Regions from separate parts of the Homo sapiens genome. Here regions 2 and 3 are each linked to region 1. Evidence: fine-mapped expression QTL. A gene starts in region 1. Each other region holds a variant in brackets. All regions are shown on one strand. Distances are from middle to middle. Region 1 holds the start of LINC01819 (long intergenic non-protein coding RNA 1819). Region 2 has its middle 33 kb from the start of ZFP36L2. Region 3 overlaps LOC107985876.

Region 1 (2,760 bases):
AAAGGACACTAGGGTTCGTTTCCATCCCTGGGCAGATCCCGAGGAAGGCTGGGTTGTTCTGGAGGTCTTGGCGCTGGGCCCTGCACTCCAAGCTTCAGGGCCTCCCAGACCCTTAGTGCACGTTCCACTACACTAAATCACCCCGCCCCTCCTCTCCCCACTCTGCCCCAGGCTTTGGACTCACCCAGGAGAATGAATTACACCTCCCAGCCGGACGTGAGGCCATTTGTCTTGTGCTCTGGAATCCTGATTAGATAAAATCTGAACAGAGCACATTTACTTATTTAGTGTATTTCTGGGTGGGTGGGTCCTAGCCCTTGGGGATCACCTTCTCCAGATCAGGGTGAAGAGTTTACAGAAGGGAGGAGCAGGTCACATATCCAGAGCAACCAGCTCAGGCATTCACCCTGCGGGGTCACAGGAACCCCACCGTCCCCAGCTCAGGCCCACTCCACTCCAGCTCCAATCTCCCCAGTCCTGCCTCCCCGCCTCCAGCTCAGGAAGCTTTAGGCGTTGGTTGCTCATCATATGGCTGAGGCTGGCAGAAAGAAGGACTAGGTGCCCAGTGATGTGGCCACATCGCACCTCTGGCGGGAAGTGGACTCTCTCCGACCCCCCTTGGGGGCTCTGGTGGCCTCTGCGGGACCTCGGGTTGTCTGAGCACACGCACCCTCGCCCTCTCTGGGACCTGATGCCTCGATTTAGGCTCAGACCCTGTAAATGCCCCTTGAGAGCCCTCAAGGATCCAGGGTTCTCTTGTCCTCAAAGAAGCAGAACATACCTGCTCACCAGCCTGCAGCTTGTCCTGTGTGTCCCGTCTCCTCAAGTACGGAGAGGCCAGGGCTTCCTGAATCTCATCAGATCCGAATCTCCCCAGATCTCATCAGGGCCTCTTCCCAGGAGACACCAACTCTCAAGGTCTGGAGACACACCTGGAACCTGTATTTTCCCAAATGGTCCTCCTGGCTCTTCCCACAGAACTGTCTTCTTGTCCCTGGTCTCCACTGATGGGGAACAAGGCATGTGACCCCCTGGGTCGGGCAGGCCCAAGGCAGGCGAGGCAGTGAGAAGCAGGCGAGGGGATAGGGCTGCTTGCTCAGGTAACTTGGGTTCAGGAGGTTTGGCAGCCGAGCTGCCTCTCCTGGCAGCGGGGCTTGGCCAAGGGCAATGTGCAGCCACACAAAGCCATCCTCACAAAGCCACCCTCACAGCCTCTCTGGCCGAGAGTCCCTGGGCGCTCACTTGCCGGGATGCACAGGCACGCCTCTGGCCAGGCCGGGCTGCGGGGGTTTGTGGCCTGGAGAATCAAAGAGCCGCCCTCAGCTCGGAGAACACTTCCTCTAGAAGGCTCTGGTAACAGCACACCGGGTCTGAGGAGAAAGAGCCTCTGTGGGCCACGGTGGGTCTTTGCCCACAGAGGCTCACACACCACCCCTCCTGTTCCAACACCACCCCCTGCCCGGCCCCAGTTCTCCTACCAGCCCAGGGGACTCAGGTGGGCCAGACCTTTTCACACTGCCCCTCCCACACACACCACAGCAAGAGGGTGAGCCTCCCTCTTTCTCTGCCGGGGTCTCTGGGGCCTCCCACGACGGGGGTGGGTGGTGCCATAAGCCCTGGGTGCCTGTGGGCGGTGGTCCCACGGATGCCCTGCTCAGTTCCAGACATAGTTGTTATTTGGACTTTTCACATCAAAGTAATTAATTAAATATGCAATAGAATACATTCTCTTCCTCAGTCAGTGGCAACCCCATCCCTTCATTCACTGAGGCCGAAACCTTGGATAGCCGTCCTGGAGTTTTTCAGACCCATGTCCAAACCACTGGAGCATCTTGTCAGCAGGATTCCAACTTCTTCCAGAGCCCACCCGCCTCTCACCACCTCTCTGTCATTTCCCACCTGGATGATTACAACAGTCCCTGTCGAGGCCCTGGCCCCACCACGCCACCAGTGGGGAGAATGCTTCCTCTAGAAGGCTCTGGTGGATTTGGGTGATGAGGGGGAGAGGGGTAGTCCCGGGCCAAGCCACACCAGTGACCCCACGTGTGTTCAGAACCCTCCTGTCTACATTTGATTTCATCTTGGCTACTCTTGTCAAGACATGCAGTTTGTTAGTCTTGAGCAAGTAAGAGTCCTTATTTGTATGCCCTCACATGTTATCACAAATCCCCCAGATTCTTTTTCAGATCTCATGCCCTAATTTGGGGTTTATGAAATCTACCATGCTGATAGGGATTCCTGTCTGTCATGGGGACTTTGAGCCATGACTCAGAACAAGACACTTATCAATCTGGGGCCTCTCCGAAGATGCTGAGACCAGGGCCAGTCTCAGCTGCAACGCCCTGCTTGGAAGCCACTATGGGATGATTCTGCAACAGATATCATGATGCAACAGATGCCCATGAATGACATGGGAAAGCTGGGCCCCATCGCCCAGGGGGACACTCCTGCTGTGCTCTGTCAGCAGGAGGGAGCCTCCTAGGAACTTCATCAGGACCCATTCTTTCTCTTTTTCTTTTCTTTTTTTTTTTTTTTTTTTGTGAGACGGAGTCTCACTCTGTCACCCAGGCTGGAGTGCAGTGGCTCAATCTTGGCTTACTGCAACGTCCGCCTCCTGGGTTCAAGCGATTCTTTTGACTCAGCCTCCTGAGTAGCTGGGATTACAGGCATGCACTGCCATGCCTGGCTAATTTTTGTATTTTTAGTAGAGACAAGGTTTCACCATGTCGGCCAGGCTGGTCTCAAACTCCTGACTTCAAG
Region 2 (2,760 bases), 150 kb after region 1:
CATTGCAAACCCTCCCTGACCACTCCCCACCCTGATCATCACCCTCACTTCCGTCCTCCAAGCAGGGGCTGTGGCCTCACAGGCTCCTGGTGACCCCAACTATGCCACGTTCTTTCCTGCCCACACTCGCCCTGGCCCCTCCGCAGGGAAGTGGTACCTTCCCTCCCTCTGGATCTCTGGGGATCCTGCTGGTCCTTCAGGGGCCTGCTTATATGTCTCCTCCTCCAGGAAGCTTCCCTAAAGATGGCAGTCAAAAACACATTCTCCTTCAAATGGCTGTAGCACTTACTATATGCCAGGCACTGTGCTGAGCCCTGGGTCTCATCTAACCCTCACAGCAACCACAAGCAGCAAATTCACTCCACTATTATCACCTCCAGGTTCTAGATTAAAAAACAGAGGCACAGAGAGGTCGGGTAACAGACCCAAGGTCACACAGCCAGAAACAGATCAAGGCAGGATTCAGGCTCTGGCAGTTTGGATCCATGGCATCCACTGGATTAGCAACTCCTTGGGGCAGGGACCATGGGTCAGGACTGGCTTCCTGTAGGAGAAGTCTTAGTATTTGCTTAGAAAGCTCAGAGCTGGACCCCTCCCCCAGACCTCCAGTCCTCAGAGTCCCCTGTAGGAGGCAGCACGGGGAAGGACAGAATTTTGTTTTTATTACCACTCAGCCCAGTTTCTCAAAAGTCACTGCCTGGGCTGAGCAAGGTGGCTCACCCCTGTAATCCCAGCACTTTTGGAGGCCAAGGCAGGCGGCTCACAAGGTCAGGAGTTCAAGACCAGCCTGGCCAATATGGTGAAACCCCATCTCTACTGAAAATACAAAAATTAGCTGGACATGGTGGCATGCATCTGTAGTCTCAGCTACTCCTACTTGGGAGTCTAAGGCAGGAGAATCGCTTGAACCTGAGAGGCAGAGGTTGCAGTAAGCTGAGATTGAGCCACTGCACTCCAGCCTGGGCAACAGAGTGAGACTCTGTCTCACAAAAAAAAAAGAAAAGAAAAAAA[A/G]AGTCACTGCTTGGCTTCTTTTTGGTTCTGGCAGGCTGGGCCCAGCCCAAGTGTGGCATGTGAGTGAACCACCCAGAGGAGGGCTGGGGGCTTGGCTCCTGGGGGCTCCAGTAGCTCCCTGCGACCTATCTCTGCCCCTCAAATCCTTCCATTCTAAAGGCCAGCTCCATGCCCACCTCCTCCAAGAAGCGCCAGCTGCTGCCCCCAGGCCAGCCTCCACCTGCTCCCACAGGCTGGGGAGTGGTCAGGGAGGGTTTGCAATGTCCAGCTGCCCTGTCTCCTGTCCCAGGCAGCGATGTGTCCAGGGCTCCATACCAGCTCCAAGCTCTCTGCCTACAGCTCCCTCACATCCACACTCACTGGGTCCCAGCTGGAGACCTGGTGGCTTTGAGAGGATACCGTGGCTTCTTGATGTACCTGAAGACTTTGGAACGCCAGAAGTGTTCAGTCCTGTGATGGGTGTCAGCCAGGCCCAGAAAGCACACAAACTGGGGGACACATATGCTAAGTTATCCAGAAAGCCTCAGGGCTGGGGCTGGAAGAGGAGGGCCTTGCCATCCCAAGGTGCTGGTGTGTCCACACGCCCCTGGGGTGACCGTGTGCATCTGTGTGTGTGTGTTTGTGGGTGGGTGGCTGACTACTCTGAGTTTGTGGGTGATTCATGTGTACCCTCGCGACAGGCTGTGTTCAGATAGTCTGCTTATGTGCTTGAATTCAAGGACACAAACATCCCTAGGTGCAAGCTTGCACGCACAGTCCTCCCTACACCTCCACACGCAACTCCTAATCATCCCTCAGGATCCTCTCCCCGCCCTGCTTCAGCCTTAAGGCCTGCTCTGACCCTCCAGCCCATCCCACTGACCTGCTGACCTTCATCCCAGACACTGCTGGGTTCAGCCCTGGAGCCTGGTCACTCTTGCTCCCTGAGGGTGAGGTTGACTCCTTTTTAAATTACCCCTAAAGCCCCACTTAGGGAGACACAGCCTTATCAATCAACACTCCTTGAATGAATTAAAACAAACTCCAAGGAAAGGAACTGCATTTGGGTGGATGGAAACAAGAGCTCTCAAGCTGTTTTCTTTCCTCTTTACCCTTTGCTCTCTGTCTCTTCCCATCTGTACTTTCTCTAACTTGTTTGCTAACTCAATCGTCAGCTTAGAAAGTACTTCCTTGTATACCCTCCTCTCATTCAAATCTCATGACAATCCTCCAAGACACGAATAATTATCCTCATTGCACAGATGAGGAAACTGAGGTTCAGGGAGGCTACGTGAGTTGCCCAAGGTCACACAGCCTGGAAGGAGTGGGTAGGGACTAGAACCCTCATGCGTGAATGGACACCACCTCCCACCACTCCCCACCAGTAAGTAGAGGGTGGAGGGTAAAGGGCGATCCAGGGGCTCGGAGAGGATTGGCCTCTTCAAGCCCTCTCCATGGCCCAAGGTCACCGTGGGAGGGAGATGCACCTGGCCCCCAGGGCCAGGGGTTACCCCACTCGGCCAGCAATGGGAGAGGCCATGAGATCTGTGGACATTGTTCCTGGGCCTGTGGTTACTGATTTGACAACAGCCCTGTTCCTCCCCAGCCAGCCAGGGAGTTAATGATTAAGGAGGAGATTAAATATTAACCACCTGTGGGGCCACGGCGTAATGTCTCCATCTGCACCTGAGCCTACCTAAAAATCCCTCCCACCTGCCGTGGGCCAGCCCCACACAGGGCCTCTAAGCCCCTTGCTTAGGGATACCACTT
Region 3 (2,760 bases), 51 kb after region 1:
CACCGCGCCCGGCTATAGCTGGAGTTTTTTACATGGCCACTCAGCAATCCAAAGGCATATATCCAGAGAGACAGAAGCTGCGTCACTTTTCCTGATCCAGAACTTGGAAGCCATGCAGTGTCACTTCTACCTCATTCTATTTGTTAAGGCAGTTAAAAAGGCCTGCCCAGGTACAGCAGGAGGGAGAAACAGTTCCATTTCTTGATAGGAAATGGGTCAACAATCTGAGCCATATTTAAAACCACCATAGTCTATCCTCTGGACATAAATTATTTACATTCCTTTCACATACAAAATATACTCATTCCTTTGCAAAGATCCCCCAAAATCTCATCTATTATGGCATCAGATTTAGGCTAGAGAGGTCTAGGATCCCATTATATCAACCATTCAGGTATGGAGGAAGTTCCTCAGATGTAATTCCTCAGGCACATTTCCTTAAGTACTATTCCTCTTTATTCAGAGACTTGTGAACTAAAGAGACAAGTTATCTGCTACTGGACCGCATGCAGTGGCTCACACCTGTAATCCCAGCACTTTGGGAGGCCAAGGCAGTTGGATCACCTGAGGTCAGGAGTTCAAGACCAGCCTAGCCAACATGGTGAAACTCTCTCTCTACTAAAAATACAAAAATTAATTGGGCATGGTGGCAGGCACCTATAATCCCAGCTACTCAGCAGGCTGAGACAGAAGAATCGCTTGAACCCAGGAGGCGGAGGTTGCAGCAAGCCAAGATCACACCATTGCACTCCAGCCTGGGCAACAAGAGTGAAACACTGTGTCAAAAAAAAAAAAAAAAAAAAAGTTATCTGCTGCTTACACACTGAACATCCAATGATGAGATAGGCATAGTGTAGCCACTATAAACACTCTTATTCAAGAGAGGGGAGAGGAGGCACAGAGCCATGACTGGTCCATAGCAATTCTGAAATCCATTCAGGCTCATATTGTGTTGCCAATTTCTTGATTAGGGCTCAGTTCTACTGCCTGGGAATGATTCTTTGTGGCTTTTGGCTCTGTTCTCTAGATTCTTGGTTCCACCTTCTGAATCATCCTTCTTTCTCTATAAAAAATGGCTGGTGATATGGTTTGGCTATGTCCCACCCAAATCTCATCTTGAATTTCCACGTGTTGTGGGAGGGACCTGGTGGGAGGTAATTGAATCATGGGGGCAAGTCTTTCCCGTGCTGTTCTTGTGATAGTGAATAAGACTCACGAGATCTGATGGTTTTAAAAAAAGAAGCACAAGCTCATCTTCTCTTTGCCTGCCACCATCCACGTAAAATGTGACTTGCTCCTCGTTGCCTTCTGCCATGATTGTGAGGCTTCCCCAGCCATGTGGAACTGTAAGTCCAATTAAACTTCTTTCTTTTGTAAATTGCCCAGTCTCAGGTATGTCTTTATCAGCAGTGTGAAAACAGACCAATACACCTGGTGTTTCCAACTGAGTAGTTTTCAGCTTGTTTCCTTCCCATAGAATTTTGGGGGTCCAAAAGCCTTTTTTCATTTCACACTATTCTGACCCTTTTTGCCCAAGCTGGTGGTGCTTCTGACAAAATAATTCTATTAAAAACTGTGTGGGTTTCCCATGAATCCTATTGGGGCTCACTCTGTTAGTCAAAAGCTATAACCAAACATTTCATCAAGAAAACATTCTCT[A/G]CATTCTCAATGTGAGGCTGGTGTAAAACGATTTACTTAAGATACTTAGAAGCCCTGTTGTTTAATGAAGAGGATCTGTGAGGCACACTCTTTTTCATTTTATTTTTAATTTGTTTTTATTTTAATATGAAGTGCTTCATGAATTTGCATGTCATCCTTGCACAGGGGCCATGCTAATCTTTTCTGTATTGTTCCAATTTTAGTATACGTGCTGCTGAAGCGAGCACTGAGGCACACTCTTGAAATACTTAGAGGGCCTTTGTCTATTCAAAATATTTTATGAAGCCTTAGATATTTCTGAGATTTTAACAAAGGTTCTTATAGTCCCACTCTGGGTTTTATCTTTGTCCTGAAGCCCTTTCATACTTTGAGAATCTTTTGCCATCTGGGAGGCTGAGAATGAAAAGCAGATTTATTTTCAAATCCAGCAAGCCCCTGGCTCTTGTATATGTTTTATAAATTTTGCTTGAAAGTTAAAGCTTCCTTTTAACTCATCTTTCTCTGTCTTTATCATATACAGCTAAAATAATCCAACTAGCATTTTCTAATCCAACTAGCATTTTCAACAGTCTGCTTAAAAATTGTTTTAGCCCAAACCATTAGTTCATTAGGCATATTTTCTTTTTCATTTTTCTTTTTTTTCTTTTTTTTTTTGAGACAGAGTCTTACTCTGTCACCCAGGCTGGAGGGCAGTGGCACAGTCTCAGCTCACTGCAACCTCTGCCCTCTGGGCTCAAGCGATTCTGCAGCTTCGGCCTCCCGAGTAGCTGGGATTACAAGCATGAGCCACCAAGCCCAGCTAATTTTTGTATTTTTAGTAGGGACAGGATTTCTCCGTGTTGGCCAGGCTGGTCTCGAACTCCTGACCTCATGTGATCTGCCCACCTCGGCCTCCCAAAGTGCTGGGGTTAGAGGTGTGAGCCACCGTGCCCAGCCTTCATTAGGCACATTTTCTATTGCTCACATAGCTTCAAGTGACAATGTTACTAACTTTCTTCCACCACGTAATAAGGGTTTGTCCCCTTTCCTCCTGCTTCTAATAAAAATTTCTCACTTTCCTTTAAGCCCTCACCAGCAACTTCCTTGAGAACTATCAGACTT

What was found. PIP is the estimated chance that this variant, and not a neighbour inherited with it, causes the effect.
Region 2: its variant is fine-mapped to the expression of LINC01819 in whole blood (INTERVAL, PIP 0.98).
Region 3: its variant is fine-mapped to the expression of LINC01819 in whole blood (INTERVAL, PIP 0.98).

The regions. Positions count from the first base shown.
Region 1 is chr2:43,038,339-43,041,098 of GRCh38, forward strand. It overlaps LINC01819 (long intergenic non-protein coding RNA 1819), which reads right to left and starts at 1,205. Exons shown (of 6, transcript NR_110585.1): 1 at 782-1,205. RefSeq lists an enhancer at 2,665-2,760.
Region 2 is chr2:43,191,736-43,194,495 of GRCh38, forward strand. No RefSeq gene overlaps it. Among named protein-coding and RNA genes, the nearest start is that of ZFP36L2, 33 kb to the right of the region's middle. RefSeq lists an enhancer at 2,275-2,760. The variant A/G (reference allele first, on the strand shown) is at 1,012.
Region 3 is chr2:43,089,609-43,092,368 of GRCh38, forward strand. All of the region lies in intron 2 of LOC107985876, which reads right to left. It also overlaps the pseudogene RNU6-242P. Among named protein-coding and RNA genes, the nearest start is that of LINC02580, 11 kb to the right of the region's middle. The variant A/G (reference allele first, on the strand shown) is at 1,660.